Regions from separate parts of the Homo sapiens genome. Here region 1 is linked to region 2. A link means that fine-mapping ties the variant in region 2 to the expression of a gene that starts in the linked region. Tissue or cell type: whole blood. Region 2 holds a variant in brackets; the other region holds the start of a gene. All regions are shown on one strand. Distances are between the middles of the regions.

Region 1 (8,102 bases), 640 kb after region 2:
CCCAGCCCGATGCACAGAGGCAAGGATGCACATGGCTGCACCTTAACAAGGAGGTGCCAGCTGTGGCTGGAGGGGACAGGACTGAATGAGGACAGGGCAGGCAGAGGACACCAGAAATGGCCCTGGACAGCATGGGAAGAACTACAGATGGGACCTTTATTCATAAGGCAGCAGGAGCCACTGGAGGTTATCTGCTGGGTTTAGAACGATCGCTCTGACAGTGCTGCTGGCCAGCACCTGGGAGGGGACAGGATGGAGGCAGGGAGGCCAGTGAGGAGGTCCCAGCAACAGCCCAACCTCTTCCGCCACCATTCTTTCTGAGCCAAGTCCTCCCCTCTTGTTTGGCTACAGCACACAGGCCACATCCCTTCCAGCTTCCAAAGACTCGCTCTGCTCACTGTGTTCCCTCTGCCAGGAATGCTCCTCTCACTCTTACCTCGCCGTGCCTGAAGCACCTGCTCAAAGGCCCCTCCTCCAGGAAGCCTCCAGCTCTGGTCGAGGCCTTGGCTATGAGCTGGGTCCCAATCACCCACTGGGCTGTGACCTTCTTGTGGTCAAGTGCAGGGATGCTTCCTGCTTGGACCCCGACATTAAGCACAGAACTTTGGAAACAGTGGGTCCTTGGAAAATCCCTGTTCCCTTGGGCCCAGTGCCCAGGTGCCTCTCCCGCAGAGACGCTGCTCTGCGCACACCGTTGCTGTTGCACCTCCTCCCTCCCTGTGGAGCCACACGTTGGATAGGGGAGGAAAAAGACACCCATGCCATGGCCACAGGCAGCTGTGGAAAGCAATGCATTTCAAACATGGGCTGCCATGGAGATAGAACAGCAATAACAATACAACAATGACGGCAGCAATCAGCATTTATTGGCAAAAGCACTGCTCTAAACTTCATATGGATTAACTCACTGCATCTTTACTTCAGTACCGTGAGGTCTGTACTGTTATTCTCCTGATTGTAAAGATGGGGACACTGAGGCACAGAGAGGTAAATGGCCTGTTCAGTATGTGGTGGAGCCAGGAGTCAACCCAGAACTTGCCCTGAAGGACTTCGCCACACAACCAACCTCTCCAAGACAAACGGAGAGGAAAAAGGAAGCTGCCGAGGAAGAGCCCACAGTATGTCCTCACTTGGGGAAAAAGAAAACTATGCATGGATTGGTATATGTAATATACATACATACATACATATATATATATATATATATATATATATATATATATGCATTAAGTGAGTAACAAAAAGTCTGGAAGGATACGTTCAAACTATTAACTGGGGTTACCTGCAGGGAGGGTGCCAAGGGAACTTTTACTTTTACTACATATATTTCTGGCTTATTTGCATTTTTCACCCAAGTATCCAAGTGTTACTTGAGTAGTTTAACATGAGAGGAATTATTAGGGTTGCAATTAACATTTGTTGCATGAATAGATGGCAAATTCATTTCCTAGGCTTGTTTTTTTCAAATTCTGGGTATGACCCATCAGTGGATTGCAAAATTAATTTCGTGGGTAGCAATCAGTAATTAAAAAAAAAACAAATACACAAGAACAAAAAGGATTACAGACCAGCAGACACAGTAAGGGAGTTATTTCAGTAAACTTTTGTTTCAGCTATATACAGTGTGACCTGTGTAGTTACCTACGATGTATTTCTTACTATAGGTCACGGGCAAGAATTTGAAAGCAATTGGTCTAGGCTTGGGAGTCTAAAGAGGAGTAAGGCTGGGTGCAGTGACTCACTCCTGTAATCCCAGCACTTTGGGAGGCCAAAGAGGGAGGATCGCTTGAGCCCAGGACTTCAAGACCAGCCATGGCAAGACCCCTGTCTCTAGAAAAAAAAAAAAATTTAAAATTAGCTACGTGTGGTGTCGGGCGCCTGTGATCCCAGCTACTCAGGAGACTGATGCTGGAGGATCGCTTGAGCCCTGGAGGTTGAGGCTGAAGTGAGCTGTGTTTGTGCCAAGGCACTCCAGCCTGGGCCACACAGCAAGACCCTGTCTCAAAAATAAAACAAAGAGGAGTAAGACAGGGTCCCTGCCTATGAGAGCCCCACAGTCTAGTGGAAGAGAAAGGCAGCTCCAGTACCCCTGAGTTCCCTTTATCTCCACAGAAGCCAGAGGGATGCTAGGCTGGTGGGAAAGGTCCTATTTTGCCCACTCCACAGTTGGCTTCTGGGGCCTGGATCTCACCTTGATACATTCTCCTCCTCTCCAAGGCTTTTGCTTGTGAGAGCTTTTGCCAGAGTTATGGGGCTGAGCCTGCCCTGAGATCAGAATGATGTGTCCACTTCTGTGTCACGCAAAAGGCCACTTTTCCTTGCTCCTGGGCCCCGAATATACCGGCTTGCCTGTCAAGAGGGGGAGGGGTGGGAAACTAGAAGATTCCTTTCCAGTTTCTAGATCCCGAGGGCCACGTCCCAGGAAAGCCTCTGAAAACCCAGCTGTGTGGTCAGCAGGGAGGGGCCACCATTCAGTCTGCAGCGAGGGCTGCCCCCCACCTGGGGTGGGCCTGACCCTGAGCAGAGCGAGGACTGTATGGAGAATGGAGGGGGGCAGGGGCAGGAAGAGAAGCAGAGCCCCCAGCTCGGGGCTCCCATCACGCTGGCGCCTCCACATCAGAGCTAGCCTAACCCACCCCCGCCTCTCCTCCCAGGGCAGCAGACAACTAAAAAAAGATAAAATAAAAAGAAGTAATTCCCCTGCTCTGACGTCAGCGCGAGGTCTTAACAGCCCGGCAGCGGCATGAAACTGGATTGCAACCAGATGTAATGCCCTTGAATTCTCAACACACTACTGCATTGGAAAGACATAAAAGGGGGGCGGGGGACAGTATTGGTGGGAGGAACCGTGCAGATCCCGAGTGGGTCCCTGAATCCGGGCCCGCCGAAACCGCGGGGAAGGCGGCGCGGGAGAGTGTGCGGCGCGCGGAGCAGCGCCCGGCCGGCTCCGCCATTCAGGCGCGCGGCCTCCCCTCCCCCAGCCCCCACCGGCGCATTGTTACACTCGCTCCCATCCATTCAGAGCCCGAGGCCCGCCGCGCCCCCGCCAGCCCGGGCTCCGCGCAGGAGAGCACCGCGGCAGCCCGCACTCCGGCCCCTGCGTGGACTGGATAACGACCAAGAGCCCCAAGAAAGAAAACTGCTAGCCGGGAAAACGGGCGCCCCAGGAAGCTGGGGCCGCGACGGCCTAGGGCCTGGCTGGTGTTTCGCTTCCCCTCCGCCCCACCACGGAGGCCCCTGGCGCGACCAGGCTCCAAATGTCACCCTCGCGTCCTGCCACCCCTTGTCCCCGCCGCACTCGGCCCCCATGTCCTCCTCCCGGGTTCCCTGCCTTCAAGGCGCGTGAGAGGGGGGGCCGGCCTCGAAAAGGGCGGCGGGCTGCGCCGCCGTCTGTGGGGCGCAAGGCTCGCGTGTCCGGGGCCCCCGCCCGTGACGTCATCCCCGAAGGGCCCGTGCCTCCCGGGCCTGGCCGCTACAGAGCTCCCCAGGTCGCGGGGGCCGCTTCCTGCCCGGCCTCGGGGCCTGCGCACAGGCCCCGGGGCCGCTGCCCGGGTAGGGACACCGCAGAGAGCCCGAGCACCCATCTCGCCACGCACGGCCTTCGCCGGCCCTGACTCCCAAGCGATGGCCACGCCGGGCCCGGGTCACGCATGGGGAAGTCAGCTCCCCGTCCCCCACCTCGGACGCACTCACAAAGCTCACCTCCGCCCCCGGCGCCCCGCGAATGCACCCCACGTCCCCACCCCACGCTCCGCAAAGACTCCGCGCCTCGGCGCAAGCAGATCCCTTGCCACACTCGCCCCTCGCGCCCCCATGCCCCCACCCGACCTCAGCTGGCCGCACATCCCCCAGAAGACCCTCAGCCGCGGCGCAGGGCGCCCCCACCCTGCAGCTCCCCAGACGTCCATCCGGTGACCTCGCGCACCCCCCACACCACACAAAGCAAGGACCCCGCGGACCCCACATCTCCACCCAGCGCGCGCGCTCGGCGTCCGAACCCGCCTCGGCTCATCACCCGGCCTAGGATCCCGACGCCTCGCGCCGCCCCCGCCCCGGGGCAGGATACACTGCGCCCCCCGCGCCCCGGCGCTCGCTGCTCACCTCGGCGCCCGCGCTCACTCGGGGGCCTTGGGTCTGGCGCTGCGACTTCGCGGCCCGGAGGCCTGGGTGGCCATGGGGGTCGGGGCGCGGCGGCCCGGCCGGCCCGCGGCCAGGCAGGAAGGAGGGTGGGCCGCGGCGCCCCCTCCTCGCGCCGGCGCTAGGGCCGCGGGCAGGGCGGCCTGCTCGGCTCGCCTCTCGCCCTCGCTGCACTCGCTCTCCCACTCGTCTCTCGGAGCCCAGCCGCGGGCGGGGGCGGCGCCCGGGGACGCGGGGAGCGGGCCTTGGCCGCGCACCCGGCCGGGCCTGCCTGGTGTCCGCGGGTGCCGCGAGGAATGCGATCCCCTCCGCACAGGAAGAGCGGACGAGCGGACGGGCGGGCGGGCGACGCGCGGGGGGAGAAGGAGAGCAAGAGCGCGAGGAAAAAAGTTCCCGGGCGGCCTGGCTGCGCTCGCTCGCGGCCCCGGGCGCCAGGTGGGCCGTGCGCGCCCCGACAGCACCCCCTGGCGGTCCGCGCGCCCCACTGCGCGCCCCCCGCCCGCTGGCCGGCCTGCGGGAGGGGGCCTCTGCGGTGGGATCCCGGTGCGGCCTGGGAGGACACTAGCGCCCTGCGTACAGGAGCTTCCAGCGTCAGGCCAGGCCCCCACCCTCACCCCACCATTAGCCCTCACCTGTGCCCACTTCTTTGCAGTTTGAGAAACATTTTCGATTTCAAAACTCCATTGGCTTCATGTAAACTTCATTTACTGGGCACCTGGCACCTTGCTGAGTCTTGAGGAATCAGCAGAGACAATGCGGTCCCTGCTGTCGTGGAGCTGGCATCCTGGTGGGAAGAGACAGACAGCAAACAAATGCTTAGATACATGACGAAGATAATTTTAGAGCAGTAAGTGCTAGGACGAAAATTAGCAGGTGAAGTGACGGCTAGGGCTCCTTGGCTGGGGGAGAGAGAAGGAGGCCTGTCTGTGCAAAGATCTAAATAGCAAGAGGAACCGCCATGGGTAGAGTCTGGGAAGAGCATTTTGTTCTTTTAGAGGCAGGGTCTTGCTGTGTTGCCCAGGCCGAACTTGAATTCCTGGCCTCAAACAGTCCTCCCACCTCAGCCTTCTGAGTAGCTGGGACTACAGGGGCCTGCCCTCCTGGGAAGAGCATCATTGGCAGAAAGAACATCAAGTGCAAAGGTCCTGAGGCAGGAGAGAACTTGGTGAGTAAGTGGAATTGTGAGGAGGCCGTCAGCAAGGGGACAAGTAATGGGCACATTGAAGTCAGAGCCATATCGGGAGGGCCAGAGCCTGCAGGGCTGCAGAGAGCTCAGTGAGGAATTTGTTTGCAATTCTAGTGCAAGGAAGGTAGCCACTGGCAGACTTTAAACAGAGGCATGTTGAATGAGAGAGTCCTTGCATGAAACTTAAGGTACAGACCTCGGAGCAATTTCATGCCTAGGTCTCTACTTGCCATAGCTCAGGTGGGAGCTCACTGCCACCTGCTTGGGAAGCCTCTCAGCCCCACCCAGGCTCTAGGGTCTGTGGGATATGACCCCATTAACAGCCCCATCGAAGCCTCCCTCATTTGTCCTTTGGTAGGGCAGAGGGGAGCTGGTCAAGGCATCAGAGCTTGTGGGTGACCTGGGACAAGTGAATCCTGCATCTGCAAAATAAGGTATTGTGATAGATGGGGGGCCCTCACTCTGTCCCAGGCCTGCTGTGCCCCTTCTGTGCATGGTCTCATTAGATCCTGGTGCCCCCTCTGTGAGGTCGGCTCATCACATTTTGTGGATGAGGAAACAGGCGCAGAGTGGTGAAGTCCCCTGTCCAGGTTCTCAAGCTACAGGACAGAATCAACACAGGTCCCCACAGTCCTTCCTACTGGACTTGGCTACCCGTCTCCCAGGGTGAATGTCAAGAGCAAGACAGAGCTGGATCCCAGTGCGAACTGTGTTGTTTTAAGCTTGTTTTAAGTGCGGTTTCTGGATGACAGATCTGGTTTATTTTTATTTATTTATTTATGTATTTTTTTTTTGAGACGGAGTTTTGCCCCTGTTGCCCTGCCTGGAGTGCAATGGTGCGATCTTGGCTCACCACAACCTCTGCCTCCCAGATTCAAGCAATTCTCCTGCCTCAGCCTCCCGAGTAGCTGGGATTACAGACATGCACCGCCACACCCACCTAATTTTGTATTTTTAGTAGAGACAGGGTTTCTCCATGTTGGTCAAGCTGATCTTGAACTCCTGACCTCAGGTGATCCACCTGCCTCGGACTCCCAAAGTGCTGAGATTTCAGACATGAGCTACCGCGCCTGGCAAATCTGGTTTCTAAACGTGGCTCCTCTATGCCCAGCTGGGTGGCTTTGGGCAAACTACTTAACTTGCTGAGCCTCCGTTTCCTCATCTGTAGAATGGGGATAATAGTACCTACCTCATGGGTCTGTTGAGAGGATTGAATGAGGTACGTGTGGAAAGCATTTAGCTCACAGCCTGGCATGCAGTAAGTGCTATTACTGCTTTAAGATGCTAGATTAATGGGAACAGTCCCTATCATCCATCCAGGGCTCCCAATCTCCACCCCGAGCTGGTCTCCTGCCCTCCCTGCCTTACCTTAACCTGCTCCTGAGTGGAGCCTAAGGGAAGGCTGGTTCTAGGGACCCCAGTGGGAGGCAAGACAAGGAGGTCTTGCTGGGAGATTTCTGGTTCCCACACAAGGGTCCCCAAGACTAGCTTCTCCACCTGGAGAGGGTGGGAGACCAGCTGGAACCCCAAGGAGAGTCAATTTTCTGGCCTTGGAATTAGGTATTTTTTGTTTTGAAAATTCCTTGGTATCAAGTTTACATGACTGGGGCCACTGGACCCTGTAGGCAGGGCTGGGGGTACAAAGAGGATCACAAGCCTGGCCTCTTTGGGAGCCATAGCTCAGGCACCACTCAAGGAAGCACATTTGTTCAAGGGATTAGCATTTCTGGATGTCAGTTCAGCGAAGGGTTGGAGGAGGTGGCGATTGAGGCAGACCTCAGAGGATGGGCAGGAAGGGAGCCCTGGGTTGCAAAGGGGATGGGTGTCCCAGAGAGTGAGAGGAGGAAGGAATATGCAGGCAGATGGAAGAGGGTGTGCGGTCAAGGTACTAACAACTGCTTTTGTGTGTGAGTGTGAATGTGTGTATATGTGTGTGTAAGACAGAGTCTCACTCTGTTGCCCAGGCTGGAGTGCAATGGTGTGATCATAGCTGACTGCAGCCTCAAACTCCTGAACTCAAGCAGTTCTCCCACCTCAGCCCCCTGAGTAACTGGGACCACAGGCATACACCACTATGCCTAGCCAATTTATTTTTTATAGAGATGGCATCTTGCTATGTTGCCCAGGCTGGTCTTGAATTCTGGGCTCAAGTGATCCTCCTGCCTTGGCCTCCCAAAGTGCTGGAATTACAAGTGTGAGCCACCACGCCTGACCAGAACTGCCACTTTTGAGTACCTACTGTGTGCCAGGTGCCTAGGGATGTTGTAACAAATTCCACAAGTGGCTTAAAATAACACAAATTAATTAATTAATTAATTTATTTATTTATTTATTTATTTATTTATGACAGAGTCTTGCTCTGTTGCCCAGGCTTGAGTGCAGTGGCGCAATCTTGGCTCACTGTAACCTCTGCCTCTCGGGTTCAAGTGATTCTCGTGCCTCTGCCTTCCAAGTAGCTGAGACCACAGGCACATACCACACCACCAAGCCTAGCTAATTTTTGTATTTTTTGTGGAGAGTGGGTTTCACCATGTTGCCCAGCCTAGACAGATTTATTCTTTACAGTTCTGGAGGTCAGAACTCCAAAATCAGTTTCACTGGGCTAAAGCCAAGGTGTGGGCTGGGCTAGCTCTCCTGGTGCCTCCAGGAGAGAATCTCTTCCTTGCCTTTTCCAATTTCTGGAGGTTGCCTGTGTTTCTCAGCTTGTGACCCCTTGGTGACCTCCAGAAGCTAGAACAGGCAAGAAAACAATTGCTTCCATTGTCCCAGCTTCTACTTC
Region 2 (8,091 bases):
AATTTGGGAGCAATGTGTGTAACTTCAACTGTTGGAGTAAATGAGTTATGGAAAAGCCACAATTTCTAAAATCCCAAGGTTCTACCAAAGGAGTGAGGTTCCTGGGGAAACAGGCATGAGGCAGCAGCTCAGGCTGATGTGTCCTGTGCGATATAAAAAGCTGTGGCCTGATCTCTAAAGTGGGGCTTTTGAAAATCACCAGTCCACAACTACCTGCCTGGCTAGTTTAACCTAGACTGCTTCAGAAGCAAGGGAGGGGGATAATGGACTGGAGAAAAAGCTGACACAAAACTCAAGACAACCAGTTTCAGTACCTGGGCCCTCAAAGCAATAGTGAGGACTGAGAAAGTAGCAAGGGGCACTGATGTCATCTATTTTCTGGGAAGTGTAATTTTTAATGGTTTCATTAAAAACTTACTAACCTTCTACTGGAAGAATACCTCAAATGAAAAATTTTTTTTTTTTGAGACAGTTTTCGCTCTTGTTGCCCAGGGTGGAGTGCAGTGGCGCGATCTCGGCTCACTGTAACCTCTGCCTCCTGGGTTCAAGTGATTCTCCTGCCTCAGCCTCCCGAGTAAGTGGGATTACAGGCACGCACCACCAGACCTGGCTAACTTTCTTTGTATTTTTAGTAGAGATGGGGTTTCACCATGTTGGCCAGGCTGGTCTCCAACTCCTGACCTCAGGTGATCCGCCCACCTCGGCCTCCCAAAGTGTTGGGATTACAGGCGTGAGCCACTGCGCCCGGCCTCAACTGAAAATTCTTGATGAGATTAGTCCCACTGCATAGGTCTCAGCACTGAGGTTTAGAGATGTGAGACTCAGAGTAGGTTTCAGTTCCCCGGAGTGAAGGGGGCATAGGGAGGGGCAGGGCTTCCCAGTGTTAACTGCCTCTGCCCAAATCATGACTCAGTCCTGGTACCACGTCAAGATCCCTTTGAAAGGAAACATACTTTGCATCAAGTAATCCTTTGAAACTGCCACATTGAAAAGTTAGTTTTTAACCCAAATATAAATCTGGGAGCTAAACACTAGTCACGAAGCCATCTTTACTTAATGAAGAACCACCTTGAGGGAGACCAGCCCTGCTTGCCACTTACATGGCTGCCCCTGAGACGGTCTGTTCTGTTCATGCCCCAGCAGCCTTTTGCCTTAGGTTTCAGGACCTTCTGAACCACCCTTGAGGGTGTGTGCCAGCAAATACCTCAAGTGGACTTCTACTTAGGACCACTTGAGGGCACAACTTCAGCTTCTAGAAGGCCAAGTGTGGCTGCAATTCAGGATCTGCCCCAAACTCATCAGCCCTTCCCAAGTTTCCCAGGTGAGAACAGTATGAGCTGTGAATTTCTGTGTTGGTGTGACAGGAATGCCACAGTGGTGGTGCCAGTGATCACTTTCTGACCTTCCTTCCTTCTCAGATAAAATGTTGCACAGTTATGGCCTTGGAGGCCTAAGTAGACAGCAATTAACCAGCCAGTGAGAAAACGAATCAGCATCTAGAACAGGAGGGGAGGGAACCGTAACAGATAAGGGAGCCCACGATTAGAAGCAGGCTCCCTGCACAGCCTCTGCCTCCAGCGCAAGTAACAGACGTTTCACATTTAAAGGCTGCCAAGGTATTGCTGGCGACTCTCCTGTCTGTGAACATGCGCAACGGGCACAGGTACAGAGAACCAATGAGATGTAGGCAGCACCATCTGCCACAAAAGGTTCTCCATCGCAGCCCCAGGAGCAAAATCAAACACCTCTGATGGGAGCAAGGACCCTGAACAGAAGCCAACGGCTGGAGCCAACGGGCCATGCCCTTAAAACGAGGACTTGGACAAGGAGGGAACCACTGGAGTGACGTGATGCAAGCCCTCTTCGGTCACTCTTGGCTTCCACCAGGGGTCTCTGCCTCCTTGATGAGAAGAGAAGCTGGCTGGCTCCATGATGACCTCGATGGCGTACTACAGGCCGATGGGCAGGCCGGGCCTCAGCAGCAGGCGCCAACAGAAGCACACCCAGGGCTGATTCAGGTCCATTTCAGCATAATTTTTGTGGAACAAATTAAAGAAGCAGTAATACCAGAGCTGTCCCCACTTAGGGAATAAAATTTTCAAGGCTGCAAGAAACTCTCTGTCTACAAACCAGTGGCCATTGCCTAAGGAGGCTCGGGGAGGCCAGGGGATCACTATCAGTGGGATAGGTGCTGGCGGAACCAGGGGGTGTCTCCTTCCCAGTTTCAAACTTGTCCTCAGAAGGGGGACTCAACTGGGGACGGCCGTGAGCTGTGGTGACTGAGGTGCACACAGCCTCCCAGAGGCAGAACCTGAAGAGCGCCACGTGGTAGCTCATCCAGGAAATCCGTGCTATTTGAGTTCTCATCGGCTGGGCCAACCACCTGCACCAGCTGACTAAACAGAACCGTTGCTGTCCCAAGCCCACGAGACCCAGTGAGAGGTAGTGAAGTGGTTGCAAAGGTTTATGTGGGTGGGAGCTGGAGTGTGGCCTCTGCCATGTTCACACGGGTCTGCAGACCTTCCCCACGAGGAAGGTCAGTGCTCATGCGCTCTGGCCGGCAGGAGCCAGTGGGCCACCCAGGAGAGCTGCTGGCTGCTCCTCCCTTGCATGGTGGTGATGGCCTCATGGCGCCTCAGCCCTGCTCTGCCTGCTGTGCTCTCCAGCCCCCAAGGTGGTCCTCACCATTGGCTTTGGTCACTTGTGCCCGCTTCACACTAGGACTAGTGAACACTCTGCTCGTTCCTGGTGAAAGAGTATGGGGAGTGAGTCCCAAGGCCCGCTCACAGGCACTTCTCTCCCAGGTAAAGGTGGCGAGGACAGCGGACAGGGTGCTGCTCACGCTCTGTGGCCCTGAGGCCAAGGTCGCATGTTTCCCACGACCCAGAGGGTGGCAGCCTTTCTCACCCCCACTGGCTGGTCCAGGGCCTCCCCTAGGACAGTGGGCTCCAGGAAGCAAATAAAGGGCTGCATCTGGGTCTGAAGGAGGCGATGGGTGTTCTGCCCTCCTGTTTTCCACCAAACCACAACAGTTACCTGGCTGTCACCCTCGTTCATTTTGCCACTCAAGTGTCCGGCAATGCTGAATACAGCCAGTGTGCTCCTCCCATCAGGCTTTGGCCTTCCTGCCCTCACCCTGCCCCACCAAGGGACTGGTGGCTTCCCTTCTGCCCTGGCTGCCAGTCCTCAGAAAACCAAGGCCCCCTCCATATCCAGGGGCCACTCTTCACCAGGGAGCCAAATGTAGCTGTCACCATCCCTCCAGACGCCTTTAGAGGGAGCCAGGCTCCACTTCTGCCCATGTCCAACTTAAAAACTACTAGGAGCCACGTGGGAACCATGCTGCCAGACACCAGAAACTTAAACAGTCCAGCTCAGGCAACTGTTTGGTCATGCCAACCCCTCCCCTCCCCATACCCTGAGTCACAGGTCTTGGTCACAGTGTCTGGGACCGACCTCAGATTTTATACAAAAAGCTGGGGACATAGTCAAACCTGAGCATGGGGTGGCTGGTCCCTGGAGATTCCTGCATGTAGTGCAGCTTCAGCAGCTCAGCCAGGTACTGGACCACCCTAACATCCTCATTCACCAGACCCAGGGTCAGCTTTAGGAAGCTCATCTGGCGGCTGGCTACCAGCTCCTCTGTCTCCTTGTCGTGGGTAGGCAGGTGCAGGTGGTGGCAGAAGGTGTAGAGGAAGGCCTTGGAGCAGAGCTGGGTGAGCATGCTCTGGACATGCAGGTAGTAGGTGCTGCCCCGCTTGATCTGTGTGCGGTGGTCTGCCAGGCGGGGCACCAGGGTGCCTCTGTAAAGGGGGCAGCGCAGGGTTTTGTTGTCAAGGTCCAGGATGCTCGTGTAGCGGCTGTAGCGGCTCAGGGCATGGAGGGTACCGGCACCGGCAGGGGAGGCCACTCTGAAACAGACAGGCCAAGGTCAGGAGGAAGGGCAAGGGCCGGGAAAGTGGAGGCAGAAGCTTGGGAGGTGAGGCCTCCTGTCCCCAGGCCAGCATCCACCTAGCCAGCATGCACTGGCTCTTCCTGGAAGACAAATCTGATCATTGTAATCTTCAAAGGGCTCCTCACCACTCTTATGACCAAGGTCAAAAACACGCTGGGTGGCCCACAAAGCCCTTTGTGGTCCGATTCCTGCTGAATGGACTCTTTTTTGGAGCCATGGCAAGCTTTCAGTGGGGCCTTAGAATTACAAACCTCTTTGTTCAGGCCAGGTGCAATGGCTCACACCTGTAATCCCAGCACTTTGGGAGGCCGAGGCAGGCGCATCGTGAGGTCAGGAGATCGAGACCATCCTGGCTAACACGGTGAAACCCTGTCTCTACTAAAAATACAAAAAATTAGCCGGGTGTGGTGGCAGGTG[C/T]CTGTAGTCCCAGCTACTTGGGCGGCTGAGGCAGGAGAATGCTGTGAACCCAGGAGGCAGAGCTTGCAGTGAGCCAAAATCGTGCCACTGCACTCTAGCCTGGGCAACAGAGCGAGACTCTGTCTTAAAAAACAAAACAAACAAAAAAACCTCTTCTTTCTGCCTGAAATAACCTCTCTCTCTTGTACTTAGCTTAATTTAAAGCATATTCAGCCTTCCCTGATCCTCTCCTGCTTTCCTGCTGTGACCTTGGCCAAATTCATTAACCTCTCTGAGCCTCACCTATAAGATGGAGATAACATTCCTACTGTTTTTATTTATTTAGAGACAGGGTCTTGCTCTGTTGCGCAGGCTGGAGTGCAGTAGCACGATCATGACTCACTGCAGCCTTCATCTCCTGGGCTCAAGGAATCCTCCCACCTTGGCCTCCCAAGTATTTGGTACTATAGGCGTATGCCACCACACCCAGATAATTTTTTGTAGAGATGGAAGTTTGCTATGTTTCCCAGGCTGGTCTTGAACTGCTGAGCTCAAGTGATCCTCCTGCCTTGGCCTCCCAAAGATTTGGGATTACAGGCATGAGCCACTGTACAGGCCAGTTACTACTATTACATCCCTCATGGGGTCGCTGTGGAGACAAAATGAGTTGTGCTTAGGACAATGCTGGCCCTCGGTAGGCGCTGCTGTCATCGCCATCACTACTTTTAGCCTAGCACTGACCAGTGGGGTGACTGCTGTTTGTTCATTGGCTTCTCCCCACTGGACAAGCAGCTCCAAGATTCTAGGGTCCCAGAACTGCACCTGATCTGGTCTCATGCCCCCAATGCCTGGCACATCAGAGCCAGGAAAAGCCAGTGTTCACTCAGTGAGGGGAGCGGTTCCTTAAACACCCTCCTGAAGCAGCTTCCCCAGAGCAGCAGGGACTGCCCTGTAGGGCCCAGACATTTAGGGTTTACGTCAGACAGGTATGGTGTAAGAAGGACTGACGGTGACTTGGGACCAAGGTACTCTCACAGTACTTTTTCCTTCCTGGGTTTTATCTTCTTGTATATTTAACAATCATTTACAGAGCATCTATAACATCCCAACATTGACCTGGGAGCTAACACTGTAATGAAGAATGACCTAGAACTCTTGTCCTGCATGAGCTCAGTCTGATTGAGAAAAAAAGAAATGTGCACAAGTACAGTGAAGTGAAGGGAGACAAGGTCTCATTCTCCCTGGGAGAGGCTGTAGTTGGGAAGACCTGGGGGATTCGTGGAGTTGCCTCAGAGCTGGCCCTCAGAAGCAGCGTGGGCTCTAGGGACTGAGGAGGGTGTGGCAGACCACGGCAAAAGCAAGGTCACAGAGATGGGACAGCTGAGACAGGCCATGCATACTGCATGCATCCTGACCATAGGGACAGCACTGGGCTATGGACCACATGCATCCCACAGGCATGGAGGAACTGGGGCCTGCAGGTGGCTGACAGCTAAGAAAGCTCATGAGGGCAGTGAGACGCTCTCCTCAACCCATGCTGCATGGCCCCTGTGTTCCGGGACCTTCTCAGCTCTCTAACGCCTTCACCCTCACCTCCCTAAAGTGGGGCTGGCCAGAGTCAAACACCTCCCAAGCTCCGCACATCCAGCTCCACAGGTGCTGCCGCCACAGGGCACCCAGGCCTCACCTCCCACCTTTTTGCCCCTCCGTCTCTGCTGGGATACCTGTTCCCAGGCCCAGCATCCCCTGATGCAGCTGACACCTGCCCCAATGGTGGCACTTCTTTTGGAAGAAGCTGGCTATTCTAACTGTTCCTCCACTTCTGTTTCCATAAAGCTCCTCCTCAGGAGGCCAGATGACACGGGAAGGGACAAGCCTCAGCTCTCCAGCCCCCAAGCGCACGGCACCCCAACTGCAGCCTCACATTGCACTTACCATGCCCGCCGCAGGAGGACACCTCTCCACCAATGAGGACACAGAGGACTGGGTAAAGCGGCAGCTTGTGCAAGGTCACCTAGCTAGCAAGTGGTCAAGCCAGGACTCAACCCAGGGCCTCTGACACACGCTAGGCTAGCACTTTCTCCAGGCAGAACTGTGCTCTGCTTTTCGGTCTGGGCTTGTGACTGCTGCTTAGTAAGCAATAGGATGACCCCTGGTGTTCACTTAAAATGACAGCAGGGCCGGGCTCACGCCTATAATCCCAGTACTTCGGAAGGCTGAGGTGGGCCGATCATTTGAGACCAGCCTGGCCAACATGGTGAAACCCTGTCTCTACTAAAGATACAAAAATTAGCCTGGCATGATGGCGCACGCCTATAATCCCAGCTACTGGAGAGGCTGAGGCACGAGAATAACCTGAGCCTAGGAAGCAGAGGCTGCAGTGGGCTGAGATCACATCACTGCACTCCAGCCTGGGCAACAGAGCAAGACTCTGTCTCCAACAACAACAACAACAAAAAACACACAAAACAAAAAAACCCGCAAATGACAGGATACCAGCTTGGTTGTTTAGCCATCTCTTATCCCCACAGATGGCTGACCCAACTACAAGCATTTCCAGGCAGAGTGAAAAAAATCAAGGGCCAGCAAGACTGGTGTTCGGAGGTGAGAGTCCTGAAAGAGAGTCCATCATGTGAGCAGTGGGCCTGAGTGAGGAGGCACACTTCTGGGCCGTGGTGCTCAGAGTGCAGAGCCTCTGCAGCGCAACACCTCCGAGGATAGGAAGGTCACAACCACCGAAGACATCTCTCCTGCTCGTGATTTTTAAAGCTGGGCCTCAGGTAGGCCCCAGTCTGCCTGCCTGTGTCGGTGCCGGTTCCACCCTCTGAGTGCTTCTCAGGGCCAAGCACTGCACTGTGCTGTGTTTTTTTGGACATGCACTAAACGTGGACCCTTCCGATGGCTCTCAGGTGGGCCCCGGGAGCCCTTCAGAGGTGTTCAACATGATTGGGTGACTGAATGAGATGGTTGGTCCGAATCCAGACAGCGAGTGGTGGCACACCAGGACTTGACCCAGACCACCCACTGCTCCCGCTAACTGCCACAGCCCACAACAGTTTCATCTTATCATACCCTCAGGTGGCGTCTACTGCTCACCTCCCCCAGGAATTCTTTGGGTGAGCTGTAGCCCATCCCATTCCCGTTTGGCCCCGCAGGGGACCCTCCAGGGTGCAGGGCTCCCCACACCTGCCCGCTGCACCTCATGCCTGTGTAGGATGCTGGAGGCAGATGCTCCCAGCACCCAACATCTGCACGTGCTCTGAAGGTTGAAAGAGCACTTACAGGGACAGCAGCCTAACCCTTTCCCCCGGAGTCATCTGTCCCTTCTGATGGGCCTTTTGCTTTTATAGAGAGATGCTCCCTGCAGTCGGGCTGGCAATGGCGACAGATAAATTCCATGTCTTACCTCACACCAACCGAATCAGAACCTCGAGGGCTTGTGACTCAGGAATCCATGATTTTAAAAACTTTCCGGCCAGGCACGGTGGCTCACACCTGTAATCCCAGCACTTTGGGAGGCTGAGGTGGGCAGACCACCTAAGGTCAGGAGTTCCAGACCAGCCTGGCCAACATGGTGAAACCCTGTCTCTACTAAAAATAGAAAAGTTAGCCGGGTGTGGTGGCAGGCGCCTGTAATCCCAGCTACTCAGGACAGTGAGGCAAGAGAATTGCTTGAACCCGGGAGGCGGAGATTGCAGTGAGCCAAGATCGCGCCATTGCACTCCAGCCTGGGGTACAAG

What was found. PIP is the estimated chance that this variant, and not a neighbour inherited with it, causes the effect.
Region 1: it holds the start of RAI1, and the variant in region 2 is fine-mapped to the expression of RAI1 in whole blood (TOPMed, PIP above 0.99).

The regions. Positions count from the first base shown.
Region 1 is chr17:17,677,793-17,685,894 of GRCh38, reverse strand. It overlaps RAI1 (retinoic acid induced 1), which reads right to left and starts at 4,437. Exons shown (of 6, transcript NM_030665.4): 1 at 4,102-4,437. RefSeq lists silencers at 2,777-3,726, 3,713-3,885, 3,897-3,976, 4,037-4,176, 4,207-4,716 and an enhancer at 3,795-4,396.
Region 2 is chr17:18,318,437-18,326,527 of GRCh38, reverse strand. SMCR8 (SMCR8-C9orf72 complex subunit) reads right to left here. Exons shown (of 2, transcript NM_144775.3): 2 at 1-3,911. The coding sequence ends at 3,458. Among named protein-coding and RNA genes, the nearest start is that of SMCR8, 7.2 kb to the right of the region's middle. RefSeq lists silencers at 695-804, 4,847-5,039 and enhancers at 3,334-3,833, 3,834-4,335. The variant C/T (reference allele first, on the strand shown) is at 4,373.